Homo sapiens: one gene and its partner. The protein of the gene in region 1 interacts with the protein of each later gene in a pairwise test. Each region holds a gene or a part of one and is shown on either strand. Other genes may lie near its edges.

The links.
Region 2: the proteins of GSTZ1 (region 1) and ZMYND12 interact in binary tests that used the Homo sapiens proteins (3 or more experiments, as listed by UniProt).

What each region holds. Positions count from the first base shown.
Region 1 is NC_000014.9:77,327,536-77,331,035, forward strand, and holds part of GSTZ1 (maleylacetoacetate isomerase), read left to right. Parts: coding exon 1-17; intron 18-376; coding exon 377-502; intron 503-1,587; coding exon 1,588-1,666; intron 1,667-2,219; coding exon 2,220-2,272; intron 2,273-2,774; coding exon 2,775-2,824; intron 2,825-3,500.
Region 2 is NC_000001.11:42,449,523-42,453,022, forward strand, and holds part of ZMYND12 (zinc finger MYND domain-containing protein 12), read right to left. Parts: intron 538-3,500; coding exon 396-537; intron 1-395. UniProt on the Homo sapiens protein: Required for sperm flagellum function and male fertility.

The sequences.
Region 1 (3,500 bases):
TCACCATTCACCAGTCAGTGAGTGCAGGGCCTGGGGGAGGGCCCTCATGAGAGCAGTGCCCTGAATGAGAGCGCCTGACATCTCTTCCTCGCCTGTGTACAGTCAAGGTGCCTAGCACATAGGAGAGGCTCAATACAAGACTCGTGGGGAGGGTGCGAGGTTATTTAGGAAAATAAGGGAAGATTCAAGCACATGGAGAACCAAGTTCTGCATGATAAGGTCCAAAAAGGCTTATAGGGCTTGAGCTGAGCAGAAGCAGGGGGGAAGAGGTGTAGTGATGGTGCTGGAAGAGGAGAAGGAGGAGTTTGCTGGCCCTGTCCCCTCTGGTCCAGGGGTCCTGGGCCCTCTCCCTGCCTCACTGCTCCCCTCTGGACAGCTGGCCATCATTGAGTATCTAGAGGAGATGCGTCCCACTCCGCGACTTCTGCCTCAGGACCCAAAGAAGAGGGCCAGCGTGCGTATGATTTCTGACCTCATCGCTGGTGGCATCCAGCCCCTGCAGGTGTGGCACTTGTACACTTGCACCCTTGCACACCTGACACACTCTTACACTCACACATTGGCTGTGAGCTGCCCAGTGTGGGGGCGGGGGTGTCAAGGGAGGGAGGGGGATTCTCAGGGCCTCTGACCTGGACCATGTGAAAGAAGGGGGTGAAGATCGCAATCTCAGAATTCAGCCCCCCAGCGGGTCCCCCGCTGCGTTCCGAGAAGCTCTAGTTTCCAAGGACGCATGTACAGGTGCTTGGGGTGGGGAAAGGGCCAGAATGGCAGGGGAGAGACTGAGCAGGCCCCAGTCCAGGCCTCCTGCCTTTAACCAGAGCAGCTTCCGTTTCATCTGTGCTATCTCAGTCATATACTGGGATACTTGTAGGATTTTATTTTTTAAGTGTCACTGTTAAAACAGACAACTAAGTATTAAAAACAGTTCATCTGTGCCAGCTTCTACTCTGAATGAGGAAATAGCCCCAGAAAGGTGGAGTGACTTAGGAGTCCCACAGGTAGGTCATAACAAAGTGGGGACTAAGTCAGAATCCCTGCATGCCTATGCCCTCTACCCGCATGTCGCTTTAACAAAGGATGTTGGAGCAGACAGACATCTCCATTTTATAATGAGGAAACAGAGGGAAAATGGCTCCAGGGGTGCCAAGATGGAGCCAGGCTGGAAATCTCTGGAAGCCGGTCTTGTGGACCTCCCTCATCCCAGCCCCACCCTCTTTCACACTCCCTCTCCTCACAAGGGACCATGCAAGGGAGAAGTGAGGGAGACAGGCCTCGAGTTGTGGGCACACCTGCCACAGCCATGGCCGCGTCCTGTGTCACATGAATAGGGATTCTTGCACATCTCTGACAGAATCACGTGGCTTTTTGAGGCCACTGGGGCAGCCTGCAAAGGTGGCTGCTGGGATGGCTACCTCCCTCCAACCTCAGGGCCCTTGGTTGAAGGAAGGGGCTCATGGAGCCTGGGGGAGAAGGGATAGACATCCAGCCAGGGGCAGATGGGAAGTGAACTTCCCTGAGGGGGTTTGGCGAAGGGGTAGCCCCCACCCAGCTGTCAGCGCAATCACAGATTTTCTTTGGGCTGCACAGAACCTGTCTGTCCTGAAGCAAGTGGGAGAGGAGATGCAGCTGACCTGGGCCCAGAACGCCATCACTTGTGGCTTTAACGGTGAGTCCTCACCTCTGTGAGCTGCCCCACAGTGGCCTCTTAGAGGTATGGCCCTCGCACACAGGGGCCTGGGTATCTGAACCAGCCTCCCAGGCTGCTTTGGGCCTGACAGTTGCATGGATGAGGGCAGGACTGGGGAGGCAATGGGCTGGGTGGGCATCCAGACCTTAGCTCCAGCACTTCTGGGAACCTCGGTCCCTGAGCCCACAGCCCTTCATAGCTGGATGGCCCAACTTCAGCTTCACTGCCTACTCCAGCTGGGAAACCAAGGCCAGCACAGCGCCAGCCATCAGAGTGAGAGCTGTCACCGTGGCCAGTGGCAGGGCTTGTCCACTCGAGTGGGGAAATGGTGATTGTCTGTGCGGAGCCTCAGGAAACAGCAGCTCATCCCTAACAGCTCTCTCGAGACCTGGCTGCCACATTCTCACCAGCAGCCATGCCCAGTCTGTCACTCAGTTGGGCGCCCATTTCATAACTATGGAGGCCAAGGCCCAGAAAGCTTTGTGTCCCCTCCCTGCGCCCAGAATAAGATGTTTATGTGGCCTCCCCACAGCCCTGGAGCAGATCCTACAGAGCACAGCGGGCATATACTGTGTAGGAGACGAGGTAAGCTGTCCCCAGACCTCCCCAGGCCCAGCCACAGTGGCTGCCTCCCTCATGCTGACCTCCCTCAAGCTCAGAGCTTCCTGAGAAGGCGTCTGCAGGGGGATCTCTGTGCCATGGGGCACTCCTCAGCTCACTCCCACTAAACCGTCTTAAGAGGGAGTTACTCAAGGTAGAAGACTGGCTGTGAGAGGATGAGGCGGGCCAGCATCAGTTGAGGGATTGTGCTAGATGATGTCTGCGCAGTCAAGGCAATCCATCTTCTCTGGCCCTCTCAACCCACAGAGTTGGTTGTCAGGGCAACTGGAGCATGGCCTGGGAGGGCACTTCAGCTCCGGGGGACAGACTCATGCAGGCCTAGGGCAGACAAGAATTGGAGGTGGGATGGGTGAAAGAGCCGAAGCAGATTGTTGGTACCCCCAGTAGAGTCGCAGTGGACACACCCAGTCCAGCCACTGACTCTGGGGTATGCACCCTGATGGGAACCCACCGGGACCTCTTTCAGGTGACCATGGCTGATCTGTGCTTGGTGCCTCAGGTGGCAAATGCTGAAAGGTAAGAGAGAGCCCCGCCACCCTCCCTTCTCGTGGCTCTGCCCACAGTCAGGCCCCACTCAGCTGGCGAGATAGCATCTCATGCAGACGCTTCGCCAACCAGCCAAGGAGCCCACCATGCCAGGCCACATAGCCACTTCTGCCTGGAAGAGGGCAGAAGAAATTGGGGCAGTGCTCCTACTACGCCCACCACAGCCCAGATGAACCTGTATAGATAGCCCCAGCTCCTAAGAGGAGGTGGCTCACCTGGTGGACCCCCAAGAGCACCTGCCTGATGTCCTCAAATGTGGTGTGTCTGTGAGCAGTAGTGAGCTCTACCTCTGCATCCTTCCGTGAACCCTTTGGTAGGGCACAAATGAGCACCTCTCTGGAAGGCATCATGCTAGGCGTTAGGGATATGGAAACGTATGGCACATTCCCTGCCCCCAAGAAGCTTACAACATGGGGGAAGAGAGTCTGTATATATAAATGCCTAGCACTGGGCCTTACACATAGCAGGTTCACAAAGAAATAGGAACAGTAGGTAACAGATGCCAAATGATACTGCACAAGACCTACCCATCCCCTGTGAATAAGGGCTGCCCCATCGTCCTTCCCTGGACAGCTCCCTCGACCTCATCCAGCCCTGCCTCTCTGCTCCCCCTGCTGCATCAGGGCAGTCTCCCTGTGTCCCTGAA
Region 2 (3,500 bases), on another chromosome or scaffold:
TACCAGGCATGCTTGCACACAAAGGACCATGTGAAGACACTGTAGGAAGGCAGCCATCTGAAAGCCAGGAAGAGAGGCCTCAGAAGAAACCAAACCTGCTGACCCCTTGATCTTGGACTTCCCAGCCTCCAGAGCTGTGAGGAAATAAATGTATGCTGTTTGAGCCACCCAGTTTGTGATATTTGATTGTGACAGTGCTAGCAGACTAATACAGTAAGTATTTAGTAAATGTGGAAAACAACAGACTGGATGGTGTTGAGGACTTAAAAAGATATAAAACAAAGTCTCTGCCCTCCGTGAGGTTACAATTTAGTGATCCCAACACAGTTCGAGCCTTGTCTTGGGCAGCTTCACCGCACCTACGACTTAACCTTGGAAAGTGCCGTAGGCCCTACCTGCCGCTGCTGCAGCTGCTGCAGGCCATGCTGCCGTTCTTCCTCTGAATTGTAGAAGGGCATGGAAGTGCGCAGTGGAATCAAGAGCTGACATATTTTCTCATGGATGCTGTCCCAGTCAGCCTTCTGATGTACCACCCCACTGACAACGGAAACATAGACTTTATGATCTTTATATTTGGCATGACTTAAGATTCCATTAACCCTCCTACTGGCCTATCCCTAGACACCAGAAAAGTAAGCCAAATACAAACCAGGCAGGGAGCTCAAAGCCATTTCTGAGACTCAAATCTCTTTCCTTTCATGTGGTTATTTGATGATGTATAAACTGTGTTGGGATTGGAGAGTATGTTGTTTCTGCAGGCACACATTCACATTCTGAAGTCACACAGGGATGCTGGCATGCAATTGCTCATAGTGTTCTCTTATAATCTCTTTTATTTCTGCAAGGTTGGTAGTAATGTCCTCACTTTCATTTCTGATTTTAGTAATCTGAATCTTCTTTTCTAGGCCAGTCAACCTAGCTAAAGGTTTGTCAATTTTGTTGGTCTTTTCAAGGAGCCAACTTTTGGTCTCATCAGTTCTCTCTGTAGTTTCTTTATTCTCTGTTTTATCTCTGCTATAATCTTTAATTTTCCTTTCTTCTGCTAGCTTGTGTCTATACCCAACACAGGGCTGTGCATAAAGGAGTTTATAAATATGTTTTAGTTTGCTCTTCTTTTTCTAGTTTCTTAAGATGAAATGCTAGGTTACTGATTTGAGATCTTCTTTTCAATGTAATGTATATTAGTATAAATTCATATGAGTACTAAATTCATACAGTAACCTCTGAGTACTGCTTTGCCAGCATCTAAGTTTTAGTATGTTGTTTTTGTTTTCATTTATCTCAAAGCATTTTCTAATTTCCTTTGTAATTTCTTCTGTGACTCATTGGTTAAGAGTGTGTTATTTCTACATATTTGTAAATTTACCAAATTTCCTTGTTATTGACTACTAATTTCATTCCATGTAGGTGGAGAACATACTCTGTATGAAATCAATCTCTATAAATTTATTGAGATTTATTTTATGGTCTAATATATGTTCTATCCTGAATAATGTTCTATACGCACTAGAGAAGAATAGGCATTCTCATGTTATTGAATGGTGTTCTACAGATACCTGTTAGGTCTAGTTGGTTTATAGCGTGATTCAAGTCTTATATTTCCTTGCTGATCTGTCTAATTGTTCTATGCATTACTGAAAGTGGGATATTTGATCTTCTATCTAGTTGTTCTATTCATTACTGAGAGTGGGATACTGGATCTTTCATCTAGTTGTTCTGTTCATCACTGAAGGTAGGATATTGAAGTCTTCAACCATTATTATTAAATTGTCTATTTTTCTCCCCAGTTCTGTCTGTTTTTGCTGCATGTATTTTGAGGCTCTGTTGTTAGATGCATAGTCATGGGTTTTTGCATTTCTATTGCTTATTACACATTTTCACTTAAATGTAAGTTAACTGTTTGATTCCATTTATACATATTTCAAAACAGGTAACAATAATCTAGAGGAGGGATCAGAAAAGCTTTTCTGTAAAGGGTCAGATAAATATTTTAGGCTTGAGAGCTATAGGATCTCTGTTGCAACTACTCAACTCTGCTGTTGTAGCACAAAAGCAGCCACAGACAATATATAGCCATGTTCAAGCACCTTCTTGGACAATATTGCCACCTTCTTGGACAATAGAAATGCAATTAAAGTATATTCTTTACAAGTTGTGACTGCTACCAAAGAAATGACAGAAACCATTTAAAATGTTTTTGGGGAGGTAGAGAATTATTATAAACAGATCAATAAAAGCACTTAGCCAGGATATAGCTGAGTTCCACAGGGAATTTATCAAGTGGGGCTTGTAAGCAATGGAAATGTTAACTTAGATGCCTGAACTTTTGTTCCACTGAGAGCCACTAACATATCTTGCCTTTCTAAATAAAGTGAGCTTTATTTATATATTTGCGGGCTCCCTGCTTATTGATCTGTCCCACCTGTAACACCTAACACAGGGTCAGGGATAAAGTAGGAATGGATAAATGCTTTCAATCAGGGCTCACAATTAAGTAGCTTGTGAGCCACATGTTTTGTTTGGCTATTATCATGTTTTTTTTTAAGCTGAATTTGAATATCTTTAGGTAGGGCATTCATTCTACAATTCACCACTGATCCTATAGCTTCCTATTATTGAATACCACTTCACTGTTTGTTTTCTTAGTGATCTGCAATATTTTTTGCAATAATTTTTCCTTTTGTTTGACATATGAAGCGCAAATTTAAATGCCGTCACTGGCCAGGAGAAGAAAACGAATGGTGAAGTGGTATTCAAGAACAGGAAGCAATAGTATTTGTAGTGAATTACAGAATGTACGCCCTGACTAAAGACATTTAAATTCATGCAAACCTATGGTACTGAAGTCTCTTTTACTTGTCACCAATGTTTTAGTATGTACTTCCATAAAATTACCTTTTCTTAAAAATGTTCTACTGTCCTGTAATCCCAGCACTTTGGGAGGCCGAGGAGGGCGGATCACAAGGTCAGGAATTCGAGACCAGCCTGACCAATATGGTGAAACACCGTCTCTACTAAAAATACAAAAAAATTAGCCAGGCGTGGTGGCGCATCCCTGTAATCCCAGCTACTTGGGAGGCTGAGGCAAGAGAATTGCTTGAACCCGGGAGACAGAGGTTGCAGTGAGCCAAGATGGTGCCACTGCGCTCCAGCCTGGGTGACAGAGCAAGACTCCGTCTCAAAAAAATAATAAAAAAATAAAAGTTCTACTGTGTCTCTAAAGTAAATAAAAATGTGCTATTCTCTGAGAATGGTCATAATCCACTATAGAGCAATATGCACAAGATTACACACAATATATAAAATAAATGTATTCAGAGAAAAGAAGGAAATTCACCAAAATTTCAGGTTATTAATCCCTGGGTTGTGGGACTATGGCTTATTTTTCTTCTTGATTTTTTATATTTTCAGGTTTTCTGCAGTGAGCATGAATTGCAATTATAATCAGGAAAAAAATTCTTTTGCAGAAAAAAACTTTCACAAATTCAGACTGACTTTCT